7 linked regions of the Homo sapiens genome follow. The protein of the gene in region 1 interacts with the protein of each later gene in a biochemical or structural test. Each region holds a gene or a part of one and is shown in the gene's direction. Other genes may lie near its edges.

Region 1 (3,500 bases):
ACACCTTGATCTTCTCATCCAGACCACAGTGCTTTACCTACCATCTATGTGCTGACAGAAGCTGAACTTCTATTCTGAACTCTAATTTTTCCCTTAAATCCACACTAATATATGCAGTTCTCCACTTATCACCTATATGTCTAATATGCGTTCAGATGTAACATGCCCAAAACCAAAATCTTGATCTTTACTTCCAAACCTGCTTTTCCCATAATTTCTCCATTTGCAGAGCAACACGTTTTTTCCAGTTATTGAAATCTACTTTCAAATTCAACCCCTTTCCATATAGAAAACTTTGTAACTTCTCCTTCTTTCAATCCAATTCTCATAAAGCTCATTCTCAATAGTCTAACCAGAATCATCATTTTCTGACTTTTGTCAATGCCTGTCACTCCTCTGCTCAAAAATTTCCCATGGTTTCCCATGTCGCTCATAGTAAAACTCATAAAGGCTCATGCAGCATGCAAAGTGTTTTCTTTGATCTCATTGTCTGCCAAGTACTTCTTAATTCATTCCATTCCACACAAAATAACCCTTGCTTTTCTTCTGACTCTCCTGGAATGTCCCTATCTCTGGGCCTTTAAAATTATAATTCTTGTGTCTGGAATATTTCCCCACAAACATGGAAATGGCTCACTCCATCTTCCCTTTCAAGTTCCATATACAAGGCAACATGAATTTTCCTTCCCACGGCCCTTTGAGTAGTCTTTGCTGTCTCCTCCGCTTTATTTCTTGATGGTAACTGTCATATTCTGACATATTGTCCTTAATTTATTTCTGCCCTTAGTCACATTTTGCCTCCTGTCACTGGAAAGTAACTCCCATCAGGACTGTTTTGTTCCTTTGTTTGTTTTTGTCTGTTTTATTCACTGCTATCTTTTAACAACAACAAAAAAGAGTAGATGCATAGGAAGCATTTGGTATTTTATTGAATGGCTGACTCTTTACATTTTTGAAGATAGCTTATATTTAGTGATATCTGAGGGATCATGATGATCATAAGACTTTTTTTACAAGGGAAACTTGTAAGTCTGTGACTTGGTGGAAGCTGTCGGTGGATGGATAGATAGATGTTCATCATCAGTGGATGTTTGATAGGTGGTAAGAATGCAGGTCTAGTACTCACATAAGAAATTAGTAAATGAGCAGTGTGAGTTTACATAAAAGGAATCGTTGACACCCTAGGAGTGGAAATGGTTGCCAAGGCTGATCACTGAGGCAGAGGAAAGATGTGTGGGCATTGTAATGAAGAGTCAAACTTGGATCCATCTTGGTCTCCTGCTTTCTCTTCTAATCACCTGCTATTATTTCCCGTCTACCATTACTTCAAAATGGGTATAAAAAGTTTAAAGTGTCAATCTATATCAAATTATTGATAAATAATTGACAAGGTGGGAGTAATTGAAAATTTTTATTTTTCTAAAGATGCCTGGATACTTAGATATTTAAGGGTTGTTTATTTTTGGTAACCAAAATATAACCTCTATTTTAATAAAGAGATGGCAGAATTACCTTTGAGAAAAAGTTATTTGCCATACTATTTTCACCCAATTGTAACACTCAACTATATTCTCCTCCTTACCAAGAATGAATTGCTTATTTTTGTTGTTGTTGTTTTATTTTTTAATAACATGCAAGAACATTTTACATTTTCCCAAAATTTCCAAACCTTTCACATTAGGTGGATTTAATTTGGGAAGATAGAGAAAGTATTTAAAATGTGTTTGGGAAATAAACTGGCTACACCAAGCATTATGGGGTGAATGGAGGATTTCCAGGGTGAGTTAAGGCAAAGAGAAACTTGCTTATTTACAAATAACATGACTAGTGCCACTGAAGCAGATTATTATAAATAAAGCTTCTAAGATCATTATGATGGAGTTACTAAAAACTTTTTTGGTGGAAATATCTAAGGGAATTAGAATAGTTAAATGAATAACCTCTTCTATTCTCTAGGACAAGTTGCTATTTCACAAAGGAAACTATCAAATATTGAAGGTTTCAAGGGAGCTACTGAGAAAGCATAGCTATGTCTTCTATATTATAGGGACACCTGAATATATATTATGGGGTATCGTACTCCTGTTGCATGACCTGAGAAAATACTCCTCGGATGAATTATTTTATTTAAATAGCTGTCTGGTACACGACAGATATTACAATGTGTCATAAAGTATTGAATATTTTGTAATATTTTCCACTGCCACATGTAAGTTGTAAACACAGTCATGTACATATCAATTATAATTCTAAATTCTTTATTACATATATGTAGTGAAATATATAATAAAATAGCAATGAGTTTGTCAGAAATTTCATATGCTTTATTACCCTCTAGTTACCCTCCTTGTGATAAGTTCATCGTATTGATTTCATTAAGCACACAAATGTATTAGTCTTTCAATCATCTTGAAATTAAGACATGTTTATGTGATTATTGATGGTCTTTAATAATAATACTAGCAACATCATCTTTCTAAATGTATTCTGAGCATAGCTTTAAGATTTTATAGTTATTTTGACAAAATTATGGTTTGAAATAACTTTTTCTGTTTTCACTGCAATATATATAGTTTGGTTGCCACTGGTAATAAATGGGTTACAAATTTCCTTTGGTATTTAAATGAGAAACCTATTTCTAAAAATCCAAAATGAATTAGTGAGCTCTAGTTTATTTTTTTTTTTTTTAGTAAATATGCCACATAAACCATTAAACAGCCAGCCACAATTAAAATTAATGCAGGAATTATTTTTTGAAAGTGAACCATTTGGCTCCTCTGGTTATAAGAGTTCATATCCCCTTACTTCTAGCATTTCTTATTCAGTTTCTTATGGCAAATATTAACTCATTCTAGAGAATACTCAAGAATAGTTTTAAATTGCCCTAATCCATATTTATCATCTGATGTGTGCACAAAGAGATAAAAATACTTTTAAAAGTACTTCCAAGTTTATCTTTAATTGTACATTATCAAGAGTAAAATTTTGGCAAAATATATTTATCAATCAGTGCTAAAAGAACATTCATAGATGGTAAGAGTGATTAGTCCTCCTACCTCTTATCCACCATGTATTGAAATAAATTTTCACTACTTACGATGTTTACACGTTGACCAAAAATGTCTACATTTGAAATTAGTTTCCACATGTTACATATCATAGATTCTAGATAAGTGTATTGAAATTGAAAAAAAATCTAGCTATTATAAATTTTTAAAGACATTAATTTTTATGTTATCTGACCTGTTTCTCTTTCCCTTTCAGGAGTTGGAATTTTCTAATTTATTTGCTGTTCTTCACTGCATTCATTCCTTCTTTGCTGCCAAGGTAGCTTGTTTGGACCCTCTATTTTTAGGCAATCAAGCTACTGCTTCTACTGCTGCCAGCTCTGCTACCACGAGCAAAGCAAAGTATACAACTTGACATACTGAACTCTTCATTGACACACCCCATGACTGTATAAGCAGGACACATTTACTCATCATTTTAGACCCTAGAGA
Region 2 (3,249 bases), on another chromosome or scaffold:
ATTTGTGTTTCATTCCCCACTGTGGCTTCAACAATTAGAACAGTGCCTAACATATAGATAGGCACTCAACAAATATTTGGTGAATGAAAGAATGAACACAGTAATGCTGTAAACCATTTTCCTTAATTTGATTTCCCCTGGCTGTAAAAGTTTTAGTAAAGCAAGATACTTCTTCCTTGAAAGACAGAAACGTAGCCATTCTTCTGTGTTCTCAAACTTTCACTGTCATCATCTTCATTTTCCTTACCATTATCCTCACAACTACATTACGAACCCAGCACTCTGCTAAACACTGTAACTCATACTGAAACTTTTAAAACATGCTCTGATTCATTTCCTTTTTGAATGCAGAGATGGTTATTATTTTTGCAAGAAACACTGTTGTTATCAATACTTATCTCCAGACTCTGTAGGGAATTCACTTAATGAAGAGAAGGTGACAGAATGACAGGTAATTATGTGAGGCTCTTAGTGACTAAATGGAAGAGGCTGACCACTACAAACAGAGAGACAAGTCTTCCTTTCTGATGGAGACACCTATAATTATTTCAAGGATACAGTAAAAACCAACAATATCTGAAATCATTTAGGTCAGATTTCCGGATTTGTCAATTTGCAGGCTAGTTAGGGTATTGACATTTCTGGTAAGTCACCAGAACTCATAGTCCAAAACATCAGATAATCCTAAATCAATTGAAATCTAAAGTAATTAGTACAAGATTTTAGACTGTCTTTGCTCTTGATCAGAGGGAGAGAGGGGACCCTAACAATGTCTGGCTTTATCTCGGAAATGTCCAACAATGATAGACTGGATTAAGAAAATGTGGCACATATACACAATGGAATACTATGCAGCCATAAAAAATGATGAGTTCATGTCCTTTGTAGGGACATGGATGAAATTGGAAATCATCATTCTCAGTAAACTATCGCAAGAACAAAAAACCAAACACCTCATATTCTCACTCATAGGTGGGAATTGAACAATGAGAACACATGGACACAGGAAGGGGAACATCACACTCTGGGGACTGTTGTGGGGTAGGGGGAGGCGGGAGGGATAGCACTGGGAGATATACCTAATGCTAGATGACGAGTTAGTGGGTGCAGCGCACCAGCATGGCACATATATACATATGTAACTAACCTGCACATCGTGCACATGTACCCTAAAACTTAAAGTATAATAATAATAAATAAATAAATAAAATCCTTTTGTGTCCTCTGAGCACCCTCCAGGAGAGTAGATACGTTAAAAGTTTGCCCTGGGGAATTCCCAAGGCATATATACTGCCTGCTGAAAACCCAGGTCAGCAATAACTGGAGAGAAGAAGAAAACCAGTGCTTGCAGACCCAGGGCCTACTGAATCTTTTCATTTCTCTCTCAGACAGATCATTTGCATCTTCCAGAGAAAGACTGGATAGCTTAGTACTTCAGTTGTGTTCCAGAGTAGGAAATTATGGATAAGAGAATCTTGAGAAAGACTCATTTAACCATTCTGCTCTGCTCCAAGGGTAAAAGTGACATGACAAAGCAGATTTCTCTCACAAGATATGCTGTGAGAAAGGGACTATGAATGGAGAATAACATAGCTGAAATGCAAAGAATTACCAGCTACGGTTCCATAAAAGTAGAACGCTGCAGTGATTCAAATTGTGACATGCAAATTATAACTTGAATTCTCAAGATTATTTAAATAGTATATATTTAGGCCTGTCTTTTAAATCTAATATTCTAATATTAAATTAGAGTATTAAATTTTAAATTTTATTTTAAACTCAAAATGTTTCTTTTTTTTTTATTTTTTGGAGTTAGACAGGACATGCTCCTTGACAGCATGATAAAAACTTTCTTTCAAAGATTATAAAAATCTAGCCATTTGCTATTTTCTTATCTAGTGGAACCCTTCATTCAACATGGGATTGAAACTTTCCAAACCGTCATTATTTTCTTTAGTTCTAGTACTACACATTTCTCCCTCTACTAGGGACTTTCTGAAAGGGCTAATTTCCATAATTTGCTTACAGAAGTTATTAATGCAACAAAAACTGTGTTCTTCGTAAAGCAGCTTCTCCATCTTAAAATCCTGTTTACATTTCCCACGATGGCAAAAAGATTCTATAATCCTATGAAAAAAGACCAAAATAGTATTTAGTAAATATATCTTTAAGTTAAGCCGAGGATAATCGATTAGGATAATTTTTTTTACAAATTTACTTGTGATTTTTTTTTTCACTTTTAATATAGCAAATTCAATCTAAATGCTCCAAGGAATGCAGTCCTGGGCAAATGAAGAAAACTACAAGAAGTCAACACATCTGTTGCTATGAATGTCAGAACTGTCCTGAAAATCATTACACTAATCAGACAGGTAATCACAGTCACTCCACATACACCTGAATCATTCCTCTTAGGCTTTTTTTTTCTTTGCATGAATTTTATTTTGGTTTGTTTTTCATTTGAAAAAATTTAAAAAGCTTCCCATGCTCCTGTGAAATTAAATTCCAGTGAAATTTCATTTTATCTTGGAATTTGCTCTATTATGTCAACAGGTGCACAGCAAATAAATAATAGAGATGTAAAAGTTACTTTACTTCCAAGGGAAAATGTTATCGCTTCGCTCATATTTTTTAAAGTATGCAACTCTTAAAGTGATGCAAGTTCTCTGTCAATTTTGTCCATGTATCCCTATACAGATGTGCTTGGCTTGTAACTGAGGTACAAAAAAAATACAAATAAGTAAATGTTGAATTAACTAAACATAATAGAAACCCAGAGGCACCCGGAGTTAAGAAACAGGTGTGCACATCCTGGCACTTTTATTATTTCTACCAGGAAACAAAAGTTAAACCTAAAAGAAACTTCTGTGAGACAAGGGACCAACTATCAACAGGGATGAGATGCTAGTAAATGACTGTTTGCCAACCCTATCTTTAAAAATTTCACAAAATGAAAGCAAAATACACAAATTAAAGTACAAGAGTGAGGTCAGCAGCCTTAGGAGCCTAAAAAGAAACTATGAGCACTTTCCCTGGAGTTAAGCCTAATTTAAAAGCATCAGATGTTGTTGTTTATTAGAGCATTCCCATTCATCTTGTAGAAAAGCTGAGAACTCCGGAACTGGAATAGTCCCCAAATGCCTATTCTTTTTGCTTACTGGCTTCAAGAAGAGAAGTATACCAATGAAAATATTCCAAGATTCATGTTCTGTTATGTGTCACACAAAAAATGCCATTTATTCCAACCTG
Region 3 (4,126 bases), on another chromosome or scaffold:
GGGTAAGCAGATGGGCAAAAGTGCAAGTGTCTGAAATAATGATATAGGATGCACTCTTTCACACAACACTTTGCCTGAACTTCAGCAATTGTGACTTGCTGGATTGAATTTCCGAGGTTCTTGGATGTACTGCTTTTAAAGATATATGTGGTACTTTTCCACAGATAAGCCAGCTAGTGGAATTTTCAGACCCCTATCCCACCGGAAATTTCAGTGGGATAGGGGTCTGGAGTAGTGTGTTCCAAGCAGAGATGACCAATACATGATACTTCAAGAGGGAAGACTTATAAATCCCTCTGGAGAAAAGCTACAACTCATATCACCTTTACTATCTATGTGCTAGCCACGTTGTAAGTGCACAGCCCCCACAATATATAGCATATGCTGCATACTATTATAATTCTTCAACAGCAGGTTCCCATAGCAGCTGCTCCCTTTTACAGTGGGGGGAACGTACACAGAGAAGGGAGTAAGTTGCCCGCACAGCTATTTAGGGGTGAAACTGGGATACAAATCCAGACAGTCTGATTTCTGAGTCAGAGCTCTTATTGTAAACGCAGACTAAGTAATAATAAAAGCTCAAACAAAAACCAAAGCGCGCACGCGCGCGCACTCAAATCGTAGGCTTGTAAAAGAATTGATGCAACCTCTCGCTATACAACGACATCCTCCTGCCTAATTTTAAATGCCGTCCATCGTAAGACCGACGTTAAAAAATTAAAACGACAACAAAACTTAAGTTTTAGAACACTGCATTGTGCTCTGTATTGCTTGCCTTTACAAAGTGGAGTTAAGGAACCAACCCCACAGTGTCTGTGAATACACTTGCAATACCTTGCTTGGGAAGTGAAAGAAACCTAACTCGGTGTGAGTGGAAATGAGGAGTGGCCGTGTGGGGAAAGGGTTAAGACTGTGCTGCAACTTGGTCGAGTTTCAGAAAGTTCTCCGGAGAGCCCAACTGCCGCGTCCCGTCGCGGCCCCTGCCTGCGCGGCCGACTGTAACAGGATGCTGGGGCTCCAGGCGCTCGCCCCGAGCTTTGGGCGACGAGAAAGAGCCAATGAGGAGCGAGGGCAAAATCGGGTGCAGTAAACCCGAAAAGGGGGCGAGGAGGCCCGCGAAGAGAGCGGGGGAGGAGGCGGGGAGGGGCGAGGAGGGGCGGGGAGGGCCGAGCGAGGAGGAGGCGGCTCTGGGGGCCGGGCGGCGCGCCTGACAGAGGAGGGGAAGCCTGGGGGCGCAAGCGTCGCAGCCGAGGGGCCGGCGCGGGGAGGCGGGCGCCAGGCGGGGGTTTGCAGGGCCGCCGCGCGTGACGTAGCGCCGGGCAGGGCGTTATCAGCTGCCGGGCCGCGGCGAGGGACGCGCGGCGACAGCGGACGGCGCTGCCCGGGCCGGGACAGCAGCAGCCGGCGGTCGCGCGCAGGACTCGAGGGCTTCTAGCCACCGTCCCCGCCAGCGCCGCGCCCCGCCACAGGGCGGCATGAGCCCACCCGCGGCCGCAGCCCTAGCGCCCTGCTCCTCCGCCTGGGCGGCCCGGCTGCGGTGACGGCTCTCGCTGCCCGACTGGGGGCCATGAAGCCGAGTCCGGCCGGGACGGCGAAGGAGCTGGAGCCTCCGGCGCCGGCCCGAGGCGAGCAGCGCACGGCGGAGCCCGAGGGGCGCTGGCGGGAGAAGGGCGAGGCAGACACCGAGCGGCAGCGCACCCGGGAGCGGCAGGAGGCCACGCTGGCCGGGCTGGCGGAGCTGGAGTACCTGCGCCAGCGCCAAGAGCTGCTGGTCAGGGGCGCCCTGCGCGGCGCCGGGGGTGCGGGAGCCGCTGCGCCCCGCGCTGGGGAGCTACTGGGGGAGGCGGCGCAGCGCAGTCGCCTGGAGGAGAAGTTCTTGGAGGAGAACATCTTGCTGCTAAGAAAGCAATTGGTAGGTCGTGCCCGAAGGTGGAGCACGGCTGTTCCTGCCCAGGGGCTGGAGGTCGGGCAGGTGGCCTGGGGCGGGCGCGAGGTTGACTCTGGCTGGGGAGATGCTCGCTGTTATGGGACGCCCCCGACCGCCCCATACCTCCCTGATCCCCTTCCTGAGTGCCCGCGGCGTGTGGGCTGCCGACGCCCACGCGTTTCTGGCGTGTGCCCGCTTTGTGTCTGGCGACCTCGCGCGGATTGCGGGAAGGGGGTGGCCGCTCTTCCCTCCTCCTCTGCCTTCGGGATTCTTGGAGTCGCCTAGTTCTAACGTTCGGTCTCCTTAGTTAGATGAGTATATGCCCTCTCCCCAGCGGTTTGCAAACTCCCACTTAAAATACCATTTTATTTGGAGGTTTTCTTGACTTTATCTCCTCCCGCCGAGAGGGGCCAAAAGCCAAGGAGGGGGTTTGTGGCGTGCTTAACTGTCCAGGGCCGAGTTTTACGATTACACTGGAGCGCCTGTAGGGAGCCGTGCCTCTCCGAGAGCTCTCCCCAGCATGCCAGCTTTCACCCAGGCTGGTGCTTAATTTCAAATAGAAGCCCTTTGTATAAGGCAGCTCAAACTAGATGGAAATGATGGAAATTTGGCTGGAGACTGTGTCCCCTCCTCTCATATTTTATACGTTCTGCCAGCTGTGATTGGTGGTGGAGGTGGGAGAAAAGAGAACCTGCTCTCGGTAAGCATTTATCTTACTGGGTTTCTGTCAGTGTCTCAGTCTTTCTATGCAGTCTTCATTAATGGGGAAGAAAAAGAACTTTGTAGCTTAATGTATTGATGAACAGCTTTTGACCCCGCCTCAGAATAATGGCGACAGCTTTGTTTTCAGTGACCTTAAAATGTAGTTTTGGAAACAGCAAACGTCCTCACCTGACCAAGTGATACTATCTAAACTAGACACATGCCAGGTAGTGGCCCTCCCACAATAAAGTGGTGATGCTGTGCAGTTGTCATGTGTTTTCTTCTATTATCTCTTTTCAGATCATTTCTTTTCTCTGTGTGTGTGTGTGTGTTTTTAAGCACCAAAGTGCTTTTACTTGATAGGTTCATTTTTCCTGAAGAAATTAATTGTAGCAAACAAACATACAATTTATGTCTCCAAGCTTTTTAAGTCAAAAGACAAGAGGCGTAGATATTCATATGCATGTGTTTTGTAAGGATGTACACTGTGGTTTGTGTAATATCTCTGTTTTGGCATTTTACTGTGCTGCTTCGGTCACAGACCAGATTCCTATGTAACATTCATTTGAGCCAGTTCTCACTGGTTATGGCTGGTGACTTTTACATTTTATTGTTTTGTGCAATTGCACCTTTTTGTCTGCATGAATCTCAAGATTGTAAGTGGCGCATTCCTATTGTCCGCTTGAGGGGAGCAAAGCAGTATGTCAAGAGAATTCCAGTCCAGTCAGTATTTATGGTACTATTTTCATTTGTAGACTTGGCATTCATGATTTGAACCAGATGCTTTTTGAGTTCTCCCGTTTTTCCAGCAATAGGAAGCACTAGGTGGCAGTGTGAGTTAGCACAATCCATCTGTCACCTTTGGAAACCCAGAGGCGTTCAAATCTCGATGGGCCTTCCCATGAGGGTTTTGGATTCTGCCAGCTCACATTATACTTGGCACTGGCTATTAGTATTAGTTTCTCACTTTCAAAGGCTCTAAGACTGATTAAACCCCACAAAGCAACTAATAGAAAACAAAACTCTGCAGGCCAAGACATTTGGCCAGAAAATCTCACCTAAGATTATAGTGTATTATAGGAAATCTCTTACTCTCATTTCAAATTAAAGAGTCTACTGTGAAGTATTGTTTTTTAAAAGACTGGTTATACACCAGATGATTTAAAGTCTCAGTCCATTTTTCTTGTCCCTATCTATGAAAAGTCAGTTTGTATATATTAGTTGAAACTAAAAACAAGTCTTGTTTTTATGAAGAAACTTTATATCACCACAAAATGTGAGAAAGTGGAATTAAACATAGGACATATTCTTGAATTCTCGAAGTTTTTCGTTACTTCAGGTCATCCAGTAAAATTTTGGTTTTCTAAGTTTAGTGAACTCTTCAGATGGGTAATTTGAATCCTTAGAGTAGACTTTCTGGTTCTTTTGTCACCCCTGTATGTTCATGTTTCCTTTGTTTCTTCCTAATCAGAACTGTTTGAGGCGAAGAGATGCTGG
Region 4 (3,500 bases), on another chromosome or scaffold:
GTCAACTGCTAATTTAGGCTATAGCTTTGAGATGGCTAAACCTCATTTAGTGTTGTATAATATGTAGTGTTGTAAAGGCAGTACCAAAGAATGAACAAGACTGTTGAACAACTGCAATGTGGGAGTTCTTCAGAGGATGCTCCTAATGAGACAGTTTCATCATCCTTAGCATTAAAAGCATATAGTATATGCTTTCAGCTGGTCACAATCATAAATAGTTGTAACTCTGTTTAGTAAGGTACATTCTTTATGTACTTTCTAGGGTATTTTTTTCTTCACTAAACAGAAAAAGAATCGCTAAGTGTGTAAGAATAGGAATGGCCATATATTTATGATTCTAGACAATTTGTAGAAGTGGTATAGAAACTCAGTCCCAGAGAGGGAAATGAAGGGGGAAAAAAAGCTGACAAGATTATTAAGCTTTAGTGGCATATATTCAAGATTATTTATGAGGGACAATTTTTACATTGCAATTTTGATGCAATGTATAAATGGATTCATTTTGATTGATCAATTTTTATTAAAATATTTGAGGGAGATGGAAATATAAAATGTATATATTGTTAGTAGTAAAAATATAAGGAAATCCTTGTATTCTTTTGCTCACCAACTTCATTATTTGTAAAATCAAATACTCAACTAAATTTTCTACTGACAGTAAAAATTGGATATGACACAGTGTCAATGTTATTTCCAGTAAGTACATGAACTCCTTATGAGTCAGTGAAATAAGTAGCTATATCCCAAATTATCCTGATAGTACTTCTGGCTATTTGGAGATATCTTATAGACCTTCAAATTAATTTTTAATATTAATCTTATAAAAATATTTTTGGAGAAAATCAAATACTCATAATTTAGCATTTGAAACTGACCTTCTTCAATTGGAAATTGCATCCAATCCTCTTGTAGTTTTTATATTTTAAAACATAAACTATTTTCAAGGTAAATAGAGGCAAATAAGTTATTGGAAAAAGCCATAGGCAGAAAAGTAGGCCAATAATTGTTCTAATTTTTCCTCCATCTGTTATTCTAAAATAAGTTATTTCTCAGCTCCTACCTGTTCACTTGCAGGGCCTGGAAATATTTCATAATTTGCAGTTATTTGAGTCCCCAGACCATCTCTACTTTTTTGCCCACTGAAATATAACAAAAACCCCTGAATGCTTTAGGGCCCCTGTTATTAACTTTATTATTAATTTTCCTAGTCCGTGTCACACCCAGTCTTTCCATTTTTTTTTCTTACATCTTTTCCAACTCTGAGACTCATTCAAAATATCCACATGACTAAGTTATTTTTCTAGGACTCAGCTCCCTACATTACATTCTTCCAGTAATCTTTAATCTCTCTGGGTCAAATAAAATGATTATGACTTTTCAGAGTTAACCAATAGGCCCCATTTTGCTTGTCTTCTCTTACCATCTCTGTGATTTAGCTCCAGCCACTTTTGTATTATTATGATTCTTAAAATAATCTAAATTTTTAAGATAGCCTTTTCTCAACCCATTCCACAATCAACTGCTCTACTCTTTCCTGTTTACTATAAATCATTTCTTCAAGAGGCATTCTCTGACTTCTAATTTCTGTCCTGATGACTCAGCCATCTTGAGGATAGAAAATAAAATACATTCTTTTAGGTATAAAAAGCAAAACCAATGTTTTGTATACAGTCCTGTAATAGAGGAAAATGTAGTGATTATATAAAGTCTAGTCAGTATAAAAGTTAAATGCTGTAAAGGAGAATGTGTTGGATAAGGCAAAGATGTTTTGACAGGTACAATACTCTTTAGTAATTCTTTTTTCCCGTCATAGGACCCAGAGCTGAGGTTGAAATTTGTCTTTGTTACATAAAGGAAAATATCAAAATTTTGAGTTAAACTGTCTTGAGAGAGAGATTGGAAATAATTTTCTGGCAGGAACTGCAAATAAGCTTAAGTGATCAAATTGTATCACTTCCTTTTGAAAACTTAGGGTTTTTTTTCAATTGAAAGGTGACTAAATTGGCACCAACAATTGTCTACTTTGGATTTGACTTTTTTGGGGAACAGGAATTCTTGTCATTTTATGTAAAGAAGAAATATATCTTTTCCATATGTAGAATTTCGTTCAGAAGAAATGTTATTTTTCTTATAGTGTTATTAACATTTGCTCCTTAATGTAACACTCATGATTTAGTGCAGATTAGGAACAAGGAGTATATTTATGTAGATATATTTGCTCCATAGATATTATTTTCTCAGTGCTTTTGCATGGAGGGTGCTTTAATGGGTTGTTTTAAATTAATTATTCTCTGCTTTGGGGAAATTAGCCTCTGTAAGGGATGGTAGTGACATTGACAAACTTAGGCAAAGACAGAGAGAGGTGCCAACTAGCACATGTAGTAATTTTTTAAAGGCTGTATATGAGCACCATTGGAAAGAGAAGATGATAATTTTATTGAATCAGGAAGGGATCTGTGAGGAGGGTGGGGTTCTAGCAACTATTTAAGCTACTTATTTAATTAAGGCATAATCTAAGAGGGATGTATACTAAATGTAGCGGCACAGCAAGAAACTCTAGAGTTGAAATGGGGTTATTAACTAAAGGGGGGTTGTATATAGGTTTGTCTGGATGAAGGAGAGAGGTGGGCAGTAGAGGGAAAGTGAGGGAGGAGCATGAGTAGGTGGCACAAAAGTACAAGAACAAATCTGCATTTCACAAAGACAATAAAACTCTCATCATGTCCTGAGTTTAAATAAATGCCACATTATAAAACTTTAGCTGCCAAAAATAAGCCCACAAAGAATGTGTATTGAATTGGTACAGCTGTTTCAAATCTGTTTTTCAGGAATGATTTGAAAATAATGTTAAATTATTTTGAAGACAAATCATTAACATGTTGTTAGATATTTCGAATTTTACTGAACCAAGTTCTTATATGAAGAATGGAAATAGACTTTTAAGTATTAATACTGTTCTTAAAGCAATGATAAATTATCATTTTTATTTATAACAGAGCAACCCTAGATTAGGGCTCAATTTGTTCTTTTTTTTTTTTTTTTTTTTTGAGATAGAGTCTTGCTCTTTCACCCAGGCTGGAGTGCAGTGGCACAATCTCAGCTCACTGCAACCTCCGCCTCCTGGGTTCAAGTGATTCTCATGCCTCAACCTCTCAAGTAGCTGGGATTACAGGCACCCACCACCACCCCTGGCTAATTTTTGTATTTTTTAGTAGACACGGGATTTCACCATGTTGGCCAAGCTGGTCTTGAACTCCTGACCTCAAGTGATCCACCTGCCTCGGCCTCCTAAAGTGTTGGGATTACAGGCGTGAGCCACTGCACCCAGCCTCAATTTGTTCTTAATGACTTTTAGCTTTCTATGTGTCTTCCCTGCAGTACCTCACACATAAGGGTTATTGTGAAGAATAAAGTTATTAGCTTCTAAAAAGAGTACTAAAAGAGTGGATCATCTGTACTAATTTTAAAAAAGGTTGGGGGAAGGGAGTATAAAGTAATTT
Region 5 (3,970 bases), on another chromosome or scaffold:
TGTTAGCCTGCAGCAGTCTCTTTTCTGCCCGATTCAACTAACTAAACTTGTCTTCCTTATTTCTTCCATTATTTTTTTTTTTTACTTCAGAAACCTATTCAAAACTTTAGAGTCAAAGTTGCAGACCCACGTGTGTGTTGTGATTGTACACTCCAGTATGCCCACTGCTTTGCCTTTTACTATTCTAATTTGTGCTGCCTGCTTATTGTCCAATGTGCCATGGGCTGTAATCTAGGATGAGATTATGAAAAAAAACTCCTTGTTGATTTTAAATGTGCAGCCATAGTAAAATCACTGATCTAGACCTACTTCATTCTCTTTAAAGACAATCAAACCTAGTGTTTTGTACGATTTTTCAGAGCTTCTAATATGTAACTTCCCATATAGTCTTTTTCAATTCCTTCATTTATTTGATGCACATTCAATATAAAATTTCATCTAATTTTATTTTGAAGAAAGTGAAAAACCATAAAAAGTAAGAAGTGGGGCACTTATATGGACTTATATGGAAACTAACTTCTCCAAAACTTAAATACTTTCTTCAGTTATAAAAATTAGGAGGCAGAATTTAAATCAACAAAGAAACTCAAAAATTAAGTATTATATCAATCCCTAAATTATTACACCATGCTTCCTGAAATACAATTATAAACAGATTTGAATTTTCAGTCAACTATATAAATTACCTATTTACACACAAATTAAAACTAAATATGTCTATTTGCAAGGAAATAAAAAGTGTGTTATTTTAAAGTTTTTAACTTTATTATCAGTACAAGATAACTTGTCAGGATGTGCCTAGTCCTCTCAAGTATATTAATCACAGTGTGTGCTGTGAACTAAATTACATTAGAAGCATGTAAGAAATGCAGAATTTCAAGCTCCACTCAGACCTATTGCATTAGAATCTGCATTTTAGCAGAGATAATCCTTGTGCACAAATATTTACCACCAATTGACAATTTTAAAATTGACAGGGAATTCGTTTACAGGAAAATTAGACAACTGGGGAAATGTCAAGTGTAATTGCTGGTTTTTTCCAAGAATTTGGTCCCTGAGAAATGGAAATCCCGGGAGAGTATTTGTCTCCATGTTTTTTGGTACCTCGCATATCTTAACCCAGGGCAAGCCTTTATAGCACAGCAATCAGAGCTGCTCAGGTGAGGATGCTTGCCACCCTGAAGCTGGAGAAACAAAAACTGCAAAGTCATAATTAGAAATACTGACCTGTGATGCAGACCAGCTTCAAAGTGACTCTGAGACTGAGGGCTGGGCCCTGCCCTCTCAACACTAAAGATTCCAGAATGCTGGGTGTCTATGACTCTCAACACCAACATTAATGCCATGTCAGGAAGAGAACATTCCAAGCCAACATTCTCCATGTCAGGAAGAGGAAATTGCAAGTAAAATCAAGCATTGAAGTTTTTAGGCAGTGGAAAGGTGAGTGTTTTCATCCATCACTTGTGATTTGAGACTATTAGATCTGGAAATAATCTTTGCAAAAAATCAGGAAACTATTATTCCTCATTATCTTTACTTATTCAATTATTTATGAAATGCTCTTTTAAACCCTCTTCAGTGGGCCAGCCACTTTGCTAGTTACTAGAGATACAGAGGAGAATAGCTCGGGTCCATCACTGGGCTTATAGAATAACTCAGTCAAAGAAAATGTGCTGTCTGGAAATCAGAGTTTTTGGAGCTTACAGTAGGAAGATCAACTTAATTACAATAAACTGGACAATATTTACATGATGACTTCATTTTAAATGAGATTTGAAAAGTAAATATTTACCAGACATCAGAAAGACAGGTGTTGGTAAGACTATCTAATGTAAAAGAAATAGCTAATGAAAAGGCTCAGTGAATGTGACAGACTCTAGGAACTGAAAGAAGCGAAGTGTTCCTGTAGCCAAGGAGGAGGATCACAGGAACTAAAAGTGAAGAGGGACAAGAGATAGCATGAATCTGTGTACTTTATCCTAAGTGTAATTAAGGCAACCTGTTCATCAGTGTCCCTGAAAGTGAATCATCATCTGATTTCTGGTCCAGTGTATTTTATGACCAGGAATAAGTAGCTCATTCAACTTCTAAGAACTCAAATACTAGAATATTTTCCTTTACATTTATTTTTATTTTTTTTCAGTAGTAAATTATTTATATATTTTTATTATTATTATACTTTAAGTTTTAGGGTACATGTGCACACTGTGCAGGTTAGTTACATTTATTAAAAGATGTATTCATAAATCTTTCAAATGCCACACACAAAATTAAAGCTTATCCTTGCTCTTCTTAGGATACATGAAAATGCTCACTAATTATCTCATTGCCTGCAAATATTTCCCAAGCTCTTGACAGCTTTTGTGTGCCTTCCATCTTATCAATGTCTTTCTTTTAAAAATATATCCATTGGAAAACGATGGACTCCAGGTGTAATATGATAAGTGTGGAATGGTGCTTTCTAACCTCATGAGCACATAGAAGATGGTCATATTAATATGGCATAATGAAGTTACTGGATGAGAAAGCTTGTGGCTGATGGTGACCAGTGAACTGGCTCTGAATGCCACAGTCTTATCTGTGAGAACCCGAGGGCTACAGACCAATACCTCTGAACCATTATGAACCTTTCCCTACATTTCAGTTCCATGGCATATGAGTTGGAAGCTATGTTACAGATCTTACATGGATTGCTAGTCATCATAGTCTAGCCATTATTTTTTTTATAAATGAAATCTGAATCTCCCCTTGCTTTATCCATCATCCACTATTCTATGGACTTCATTTAGTTAATACAGAAGTACACTTTTATGTTTTCTTATGAATTGTATTCAAACCAGATATGTTGTACATAAAGAATTAATCATTTAAACTAAGACTGGAAGTTAAGTATTTTTCTCACTCAATTTTAGCTTGTTTTTTTTAGCTATTTTCAGTGTCTAGAACCAACCACATTTTGCTGGTTGTCATAATATTTTAGGACTGAAGTTACAGTAACTTGGGAATATTGTTAACCAAAGGGTGTGTGTAGACCATACCATGGGGAATTGTCAATTCCCAAATCCATGTATAACTCACAAAAAGAAAGTTTCACAGTTTAATTCCATAGAACTCTTCCCAGCTGTAATCCCTACTATGATGATTACAATTAAAGTAATCAAAAACGTAAATGACTAAAAAAGTAGAGAAAAATGCTTTTGATATTCATGATGTTCAGTGACCTTACCTTATTCTTTGATATTATATAATTTATAACCCTACTTAGCTGGCTTTGGTCAGACCTTTTATTGCTACTGTCATATATACCCAATTTTTAACACGCAGGAGTAAACATAATAGACCAGGAGCCCTATATTTTTTATTTGTTCTTGTATTAACAGAAGACTATATTTTGTGTACATGTAAAGTATTTTTCAGAGCCTCATATTGATCCTATAGTGATCACATGAGGACACATAAATAATAGAAAATACATTTTTAAATGTATATATAACAGAATAGCTCTGAATTCGTTCGGGAAACCATTCAAAAGTTGCATGCCTCTCTAACTTTACTTCAGTTATTGAAATAATTGACACATCATCCCTTATTATGGTGAATATTAGACTTAGTATCAAGTCTCTACAACAGTATTTCTCTTCTTCTTAACACAGTCCTGTTGGGTTGTATAAACAATCAATTCACGTATTCATTGTATTGGCTATTTCTTCCAGTTTTATTTTATCTGTACATTAAATGATCACTCATTTCCATTTTAATCTTAACTAAATTATTGAAAACATTGTTAACAGGATAGAATTAGATTGAGAGTTCTATTAAAGCAGGGAATGTGTCATTTTACTTTTCATGCATTTTGGCTTCGGGTCAGTATTCGACCCCTTGTCTCTCAGTAATGATGGCTGAATAAAAGAGCGAGCTAGAATAGGTGCAGCAAACCACCATGGCACATGTATATCTATGTAACAAACCT
Region 6 (4,091 bases), on another chromosome or scaffold:
CCAGCATAAAATTATAGATAATATGGGCACATTTTACTATTATGCTGGTACCCCTATATATTCCAATATTCTTAAAATGGTGTTCAGCAAAGGCGATGATTCTATCTCCAAGTTAGTTCATTCCTTTAACAGTTTCATTTCAGCCTGTGTAACTGCTTTAGGTGGGGTGGAGGATCTAACGAAAAGGTCTATTTCGTTGTCAGGTAAAATTCTGCGTGGTTTTACGTAACTTTCCTGGCATAGATAGTGAAATAGTATATCTGGTGGGAAACCTCTAAGGATAGAGGATCTGGGCCTATAAATGACCTGAACCAAAGTTGTTTTTGTTTGTGACTGTTCACTTCCAAAAACAGACCAAAAAAGCTATGCAGATGTGGGTTATGTCAATCCTCCATCAATAACATTTAACAGATGCTTCCGAATGCCTGCTCCAAGCTCCTGACACTACTGGATGTGCTGTCTTTCTGTCCTTCACCGTCCCATTGCCAGGGACACAAGGGCCAGGCTTTTGGTCCATGCCCAGGGCGTTTGTCCACACCAGATTCCTTCGCTGCATCTTTTTTTTTAAACACCAACCAGAGCCCGGCGGATTGATGCACACTGTGGAAGACACGCAGAAGCCCAAGTAAGTCCCTGGCCCTGGAGCATTTGCGGTGTGCTCAGTGACGAAGGGGCGGAAATTCTTGTCATGTTAAATCCATGGCTCTCAGCACACTTCTCAATTCCAGAATCGCCCACAACGATTTTCAAAATTGAAAAGGAACTGGGATTTGTGCCTTGAGAGGGTCCCCAAACCTTGGAGCCACTCAGGGTGCTGGCTTTTGGCTACACATTCCCACCAAGAGATTTCATTCTTGCAATTTTCAAGGCCAAACATCTCTTAATCAGCGAATCATTCCTCAAAGGGCTGGAGGCGTTCCCAGCCCTGACCAGTTCCCTCAGCCACCCTCAGGTGCTGCCTTCACTTCCAGCAGAACTCTCCCTAGCCCTCCTGGACATCGCTGTCAAGCAAGTGTCTTGACCTTCCAAGAAAGTCACCTTCTTCCGTCAGCACTGGTTTCACAGTATGCCATGTCTCTTATCTCCAACTTGTAGCAAATTGTCCCTCTTTCCACACTGTGCTCCTTGACCCGTCCAGCTCCACATTCCACCAACAGACCATCCGAATCACCCACAGCTGCAGCTGTAGAAAAAAGCAAACAAACAAAAGCAGTTGCTCGTTGATCAGAATCGACCAGCATGCATCTAGGGCCCATAGCAGCCTAAAGGCTGAGAAGCTGAGTTACTCAATAGCAGAAAAGTCCAAAGCAGTGTGAGGACAACCGCCAGGTGGTGGCTCAGAGGAGGACACAGTCGCTGTGGGCAGGTGGTCAGGGCGCAGGAGGGAATGAGCTGTGGATTTTTAGTAATCTACAACAATCAGGCAGTTCCAGGACACAGGGAAGTGAGTGTGAACAGCCAATGGACCCGGAGCCGAGAGCCTGGGCAGGCGTAGGCTGGACTATGGACGCCCTGCAACCCTGCCAGGCTGGGAAGGGGAGGCTTGATCCTGAGCGCGTGTTAGGAAGGAGATGCCCAGGTTCAGGTGTATCGTGCATTTTTTTTCCACAGTGCAGAAATGACATTTCTGGTTGGTCTTGAATGTCTGCTCTGGCCAAGCCACCTCCTCTCATGCTAGCTAACCAAGTGGCACGTGTGCCCACGCAGGCCATTCTAAGGAACACTGTAATTGTCTAGACAATTTTCTCTCAAATACTCCGTCCTGGAAGCGTCTGGTTGGCAGAAGAGGGAAGGCAGGAGGGTGGCAGCGTCCCGGCTGAGTCCTCTTGCACATGGGAGCTGGAGTCCAGCCAGGCTCCAGAGCGGCTCCGGCTGGCAAGGGACCTGAACAGGAAGATGAGACTCGAGGTTTTCTGCATGTGAGTTTGGGGTGAAGCTGTGGATGTGGGGTGGGCGGGCTGGGGTTGACAGTCATCTGTTTTGGAAGCCCTTAGGCCCTGCCGGTTAGATGTGCATGCAGCCAGGGGTCCGAGCGTTCTCCAGAGGAAGGGACCGTGCTGGCCCCTACAGGAAAGGAAGCTGCAGGCTGGTCTGGGTGGCCTCCAGAGGACCCCACGCAGCTGGCATGAGGGCAGCCAGGCTCCTAATGAGCCAGGAACGACAATAATCCAGTTCCTGAGTGTTTGGGCAGAACTCTTTTCATCGCTTACCAGGCCTGTTTGGGAGGAAGGACTGAATCTGTTCAGTGTTTTGAGGCCACAGCTCAGCTCGGGGAGCTCAGCGCCACTGCCCCCTTCTGTCTGCTGGGACTCCCTCGTTTTTCTGCAAAGAGGGCCAGGCAGACTGTTCCGAGTTTCCAGACTTGGGAACATTCTCCTGCTCCCTAAATACACCCCTGCCCTCCAACACAGACACATATTGGCATGGCAGGAGAGGGGGGGAAGTGATAGATCTCTCTCAATGAGGGTAAAAAATGGTGCTGAAGAGGAGAAATGCCATGCAATTTGAGACGTGAGTTAATCCTTCAGTTACCTGGGGCCCCACATCCCCAACAGCTGCCACGGCTTCCCAGGATGGGCAGGAGGGACCCAGGCAAAATAGAAAAGGAACCAGGATTAGTGTCCTGAGACCGTCCCCAAACCTTGGAGTGCTGTCCTCACTGGCTTTAACTGGGTGCTGGCTTTAATTCCCGCAGTGTTCAAAGCCAAACATCTCTTGATCACTGGGTTTCATTTTTGAAGTCTTGGGAAACCAGAGGACAGTTCATCATCGTGTGCTTCCAGGGGCTGGGCCCAGGTCTGCTGTGAAAAGATGCTGTCATCTGAGCTCAGCGTTCATGCCCGTGTCTCTCAGTCACTCACTGGAGTTGGGGACGGGCTTATCTGTTAGGATGATAAAACTTCCATAGCATACGCCTTGCATTTGCTGGTATCTGTCCCAAAGGGCTTGTCAGTTTTTACATATATTATCTCAGCATCTTCTAGATGTCTCTGCAGAGGAGCTATTCCTATGTAGACAGTCATTCCTGTGTAGACAGTGAGTAATAGGCTGAGCAGCTTGCCCAAGATTAGTCAGAATTGAAGCCAGCGCCAGCCCCCATCCTTATCTGGCTCCAATCTGATTTGCATATCTCAAGCTTACTGTGTTTTATTTACCCATCTGTATAAAGGGTTCAATGCTTCTTAAGACATCTACAGAAAAATCTATAAAAAGGAAGACACGTAGATTCTTCCTTTGGTGCTATGAAAATGTCACTATTAAATATTTCCTGTTTTCCAGTTAGTTTTTAGTTTTTAGGTAAAGATCAATAAAATGGAATATGTCCATTATTGTTTTTAAAAAAATCATTCTGTTGCCTATATATCAGAAAAGATCTTTCATTACGCAGAGTAAGAAGTCTAAAAGTCTGTTTTCAAGGCTAGTGCCAATGTGTTTTTAAAACGCAGGTGGCCAGCCTTGCCAGTTCAGGAATGATTCTTGGCGTTTTCAAACTCAAACGTTCCTCCTTCCAGCTAATCTGTGGATTCTTCACTCGCACCATTTGCAGGACAAGTGGCTGCCAGGGCCAGGGACTTTTCACCGGGTGACCAACAGCAACATAGTGTGGGGAATTTTCTACTCTGGGCCATTTGCTGAGAGGGCTCCTGGGCCTAAGCTGCTACCACCTCCTTTATCTCTCCCTGTCGGGTGACTCTATAAAAAGACAGGAGAAGCTGAGGCTCATTCACTCACTTTGTCCACTTCATTCCCAAGAGAAGTGTCGGGGGGACCTGCCAGGCTTAGGGGAAGCTCTGAGCTGAGCCCCTTGTGCAAAGAGGCGAGCCACCCAGAGGCAGCTGTTCCCTTCTAGGCCTGGAAGTGCACATGCTCATCTACAGCTTTCTTGGAAGAAGAAAGAAACAAAAACTGAGATTTAGAACACCAGGTCTGTTTCCACTGGCGGCCACTCTTGGGCACTGGAGACCAGCAAGAGCTTTGTTTTTAAAAGGCTCTTCCATGGCAGATATTCGCAGAGGCATCAGGGCTACACTTAAATGAAGGTAAAGTAAACATATGAAACCATATTTTCGATTCTACAGAACACTGCAAGA
Region 7 (3,968 bases), on another chromosome or scaffold:
ACATCAGAGTTTTGATCACATCAGAGCTTTGATCACAGCTCTGATGATTTCTCTGGGAACTGAGAGCCTAACACAAGTCATGTCCACTTTAAGACTTTTAACATACTGAAAAGTTATGTTACAGAGTGCTGGTCCCCCTGCAACACGTTCACTCACATTGGCTGACGTTTTAATTCTTTGCCAATCTGAGGGGAAGAAATGTCAACTCTTTGTTTGCTCTTTTAATGTCAGTCATGTCCTTTTCCTTTTACCGGTCATTCCGGTTTACTCACAATCCTACAAATCAATCCTGCTCATTCTTAATTTTCCAGTATTGTTCCTCAGATTGTTTCACCAGAAAAGTTCTCCCCCTTATCCACTCTTCACCTAACAATTTCTACCCATCCGAATCCTTCTGCATTTATTGCTTCCAGGAATTTGGCACTTAGGACACCCTTGTCCTTACATTGTTCATGCATGTATATTTCGTCTTCAATAAAAAATTTAGTTGCTCAAGGGCAAGGGCCCCATAGAGTCTCAATATTCTAATTGCCTGGTGTTGCTTAATAAATTAGATTCGGAAGGGTCCCCTCCAGGGAGGGGAGCAAAGGGCAAATTACCTTAGGGGCTGGGAGTGCAGAAGCCAAACCTTTGAGATTGTGAAAACAAGACGGCCCCGAGACGATCCAGTAGCAGGCATTCAAGCAAGAAAAACTCAAATATTGTTCCCAATAATGCCTGACTAATGCCAAATACCAAGTAAGGGCCCAGGCAGTCCTGACAGCCTGCAGTGCCCCAGGATAAAACTAACCCTGAGGGGTGCTAGCCCACGGTGACCCCCTGTCTAGACTCTGGATCTCTATTTTTAGGTCGAAGTGCTTTATTCTTGACTCCCGAATTCCCGGAAACTATTACCAAAGCAGCTTAGTTTTCTCTCCACCCTGCCTGGGTCACAAATATGACGGCGAGCCAGTCCTTTCCCGCAGGACGCCTCAGGCTTCCGGGATGGTAGGCCAAGGGCTTAGCAAGAAAAAAGGCGGCCTCGGGGAACCTGTTCTGTTAGGTTCCGCCAGGGCCTCCCCCTGACCTCTCGAAGGCCAAGGGCTGCCCATGAACGCCGAGGCTCCGCCCCGCGGCCCGCCGATTGGCCCCAGCCGCCCTGGTGACTCGACGCACTTCCGCCCCGGGCGCGGCTCGGGCCACGCCCACCTGTCCTGCAGCACTGGATGCTTTGTGAGTTGGGGATTGTTGCGTCCCATATCTGGACCCAGAAGGGACTTCCCTGCTCGGCTGGCTCTCGGTTTCTCTGCTTTCCTCCGGAGAAATAACAGCGTCTTCCGCGCCGCGCATGGAGCCTCCCGGCCGCCGCGAGTGTCCCTTTCCTTCCTGGCGCTTTCCTGGGTTGCTTCTGGCGGCCATGGTGTTGCTGCTGTACTCCTTCTCCGGTAGGACCCCGGGGCGGGTTCGCGCGTCCGCGGCGAGACTAGAGCTCTCCTCAGTCGGGCAAGAGTCGCGGGGCGGGGCTCACAGCAGGCCGTGCCTGTTTGGGGACAGGGTTCTCTGAGGGGTGCAGTGCTCAGATCCCGGGGGTATGTGGCGGGGAATGCGGGGACCACGCAGAGCCCGAGGTGAAGCTTGTTTGGTGGCGTCGTGTGCGCGGCCAGCATTTACGCAGGATCTGGCTGCGTCCCTAAAAAAAGCGTGAATCGTGTTTTCGGGATTGAGCCAGTCGGCCAGGGGAGCGCGGACTGGGCGCCCTAGGTGAGGGCTTGTTCTGGAGTGCACAGGTGCGTGGGAGTGTTGCTAGGGCCCGTGCTGTGTCCGTGGTGAGAGTTTGCCCTGTGTTCCCTTGGTGCCTTGGTGAGTGGGGTGTTCATTAGGGCTTGGACAGTACCCGCGGTAAGGGTTGCAGTGCGTCTGCTGTGCCCCATGTGCTGGGCTGGGCGAGCAGGGGCCTGGCCAGGTGTTGCTGGGAGCGTGCTGTGCGTAAGTGGCCTGTGTGCAGAGTTCACTGTGGGCAAGACAGCTCAACTGTTTGCTTTGAATGGAGTGAGCGCGGACTCTGGGGCTAGGGAGGGCATGTTGAGTGAGAGCAGGCTCTCGGTGCCTGGGGTTAGAGAGGTGGTAAGGGCGCGCCATGCTTTTTGTGCCTTCTGTGAACAGTCTCCGTGTTACCTGAGCTCCTATTAGTTTGTAAATGGCTGCTTTTTTGGGGGGTGGGTGGGCCATCGAGTCTTCTTCCTGTTCCCAACCAATATAGATAGTATCTGATTCCATTGCCTAATGGCTTTTTGACATTGTTTTCCTTCTTTTCATTACTTTGAGTCATATTTGAGAGATGTGAAACAACCTAAAAAACAATGGTAGCCAAACCTAGTGAGAAATTAGTATCCTAACAAAGGAAGGCAGATAATGTTAATCTTGTTTTCCCCTGCAGCTCATAAGCTAAAGCTTAAGGCCTATCCCACTAAATTTATTTTGTATTTCATTGAATGGAATCAATACTTTTAAAAATGCATGCTAGGCCAGGCGCAGTGGCTCACGCCTGTGATCCCAGCGCTTTGGGAGGCCCAGGCGGGGTGATTGCCTGTGCCCAGGAGTTCAAGATCAACCTGGGCAACATGGCAAAACCTTGTCTCTACAAAAAAATACAAAAATTAGCTGGGCATGGTGGTTTATGCCCGTGGTCCCAGCTACTCTGGGGGCCGAGGTAGGAGATTCACTTGAGCCCAGGAGGTGAAGGCTGCAGTGAGCTGTGATCATGCCACTGCACTCCAGCCTAGATGACAGAGTGAGACCCTGTCAAAACAAAACAAACAAACAAAAAAAAAACCCGCTAAGAAATACATGCTTATTGTGCGATACGAACAGAATCAAAAGACAGCTATTTTTAATATTTTGGCATATTTGTTTCTGCCTTCATGTGCGCGTCATGTGTATCTATGTCCAAATTATATTTAGGATCCAATAACATGTATAGTTTCTACGTTGCATTTTTTTCCTTAGGAGCATTCATTCAACGAATATGGGTCTTGTATGTCTGGTGCTATTACACTGGTAGGCAATAACAAACCATTCCTATTTTCTTGATCCTTTTTTCACTATTTGTTTACACACACATTCATGCAGGAAGATAAGCAGGGACTTTGTTTTGCTCAATGATAAGTGCTCAGTGCCGGGAACACAGTAGATAACCAATAAATTATTTGCTAAAATGTATTGGGATTGGCAGACATTAAAATCCAAAACATAATAGTGACAAATAAATTATGAACCAAGGGAAGTGCTCTGGAGGCAAGCAGTATAATTTTCAGATATAAATCTGACAGCATTTAACAAATGATTGGAGAGAGGGAAGGCTTCTCTGCTCATCAAACAGACTTTGGGGCATCTGTGCTTGCTGTTCCCTCAGCCCAGGAACATTCTCCTCCTGACCTGCTGCAGAAACAGTCTCGCTCTTCTGCAAACTCAGCTGGAATGTTACACCCTCAGAGACCTTCTCTGATCACCCCACCTCGCGACCCCCCCATCTCAGGTTGAACACATACAACCCAGTTCAAGTCCCTCTTCACTTGTAATCACCCTTTTAAAATGACCTTTTCTGTTCTTTGTCTCACCCTGTCAGAATGCAGGGATCCTGTCTGTCTTGTCGCACTTGTGGTTCCAAAAGCCCGATTTGTTTACCTCTGTATCTGTTAAATACCAGAAAATTAAATATACTATTTGGCTGGGGCTTAGAGCCTAGGAAAAAGTTCCTCCTGCCTCCAAGAGGAAGGTTCTTTAAAGAGCTATGCTCAGGATGGTCTTTCTGCGGTACCTAAAAAGCTAGGGCAGTGGCAGCTGAGAGCCAGAAAGGATCTGTCTCCCCTATTTGTTGACTCTGCAGGGCTTCCAGTACTTCAGTCTTGCATCTCACTGATCATTAAAACGTTCATTTTGAAGGAGGGTAATGGGAGTAGGGAGTAGTGGTGATAAGAAGAAAACAAAAG

What was found.
Region 2: the proteins of SNTG1 (region 1) and GPRC6A interact in a test that uses a peptide from one of them, tested with the Homo sapiens proteins (one large-scale study listed by IntAct).
Region 3: the proteins of SNTG1 (region 1) and DACT1 interact in a test that uses a peptide from one of them, tested with the Homo sapiens proteins (one large-scale study listed by IntAct).
Region 4: the proteins of SNTG1 (region 1) and CNKSR2 interact in a test that uses a peptide from one of them, tested with the Homo sapiens proteins (one large-scale study listed by IntAct).
Region 5: the proteins of SNTG1 (region 1) and OR8G1 interact in a test that uses a peptide from one of them, tested with the Homo sapiens proteins (one large-scale study listed by IntAct).
Region 6: the proteins of SNTG1 (region 1) and CLDN14 interact in a test that uses a peptide from one of them, tested with the Homo sapiens proteins (one large-scale study listed by IntAct).
Region 7: the proteins of SNTG1 (region 1) and CD46 interact in a test that uses a peptide from one of them, tested with the Homo sapiens proteins (one large-scale study listed by IntAct).

What each region holds. Positions count from the first base shown.
Region 1 is NC_000008.11:50,789,407-50,792,906, forward strand, and holds part of SNTG1 (gamma-1-syntrophin), read left to right. Parts: intron 1-3,264; coding exon 3,265-3,423; 3' UTR 3,424-3,500. UniProt on the Homo sapiens protein: Adapter protein that binds to and probably organizes the subcellular localization of a variety of proteins. May link various receptors to the actin cytoskeleton and the dystrophin glycoprotein complex.
Region 2 is NC_000006.12:116,794,835-116,798,083, reverse strand, and holds part of GPRC6A (G-protein coupled receptor family C group 6 member A isoform 1 precursor), read left to right. Parts: intron 1-2,248; coding exon 2,249-2,372; intron 2,373-3,249. UniProt on the Homo sapiens protein: Receptor activated by multiple ligands, including osteocalcin (BGLAP), basic amino acids, and various cations. Activated by amino acids with a preference for basic amino acids such as L-Lys, L-Arg and L-ornithine but also by small and polar amino acids.
Region 3 is NC_000014.9:58,636,636-58,640,761, forward strand, and holds the start of DACT1 (dapper homolog 1), read left to right. Parts: upstream 1-1,326; 5' UTR 1,327-1,567; coding exon 1,568-1,912; intron 1,913-2,201; exon of another isoform or gene 2,202-2,627; intron 2,628-2,777; exon of another isoform or gene 2,778-2,856; intron 2,857-4,100; coding exon 4,101-4,126.
Region 4 is NC_000023.11:21,377,418-21,380,917, forward strand, and holds part of CNKSR2 (connector enhancer of kinase suppressor of ras 2), read left to right. Parts: intron 1-3,500.
Region 5 is NC_000011.10:124,239,925-124,243,894, forward strand, and holds the start of OR8G1 (olfactory receptor 8G1), read left to right. Parts: upstream 1-1,170; 5' UTR 1,171-1,440; intron 1,441-3,970. UniProt on the Homo sapiens protein: Odorant receptor.
Region 6 is NC_000021.9:36,477,323-36,481,413, reverse strand, and holds the start of CLDN14 (claudin-14), read left to right. Parts: upstream 1-1,291; 5' UTR 1,292-1,919; exon of another isoform or gene 1,920-4,040; intron 4,041-4,091.
Region 7 is NC_000001.11:207,750,886-207,754,853, forward strand, and holds the start of CD46 (membrane cofactor protein isoform 3 precursor), read left to right. Parts: upstream 1-1,168; 5' UTR 1,169-1,327; coding exon 1,328-1,424; intron 1,425-3,968. UniProt on the Homo sapiens protein: Acts as a cofactor for complement factor I, a serine protease which protects autologous cells against complement-mediated injury by cleaving C3b and C4b deposited on host tissue.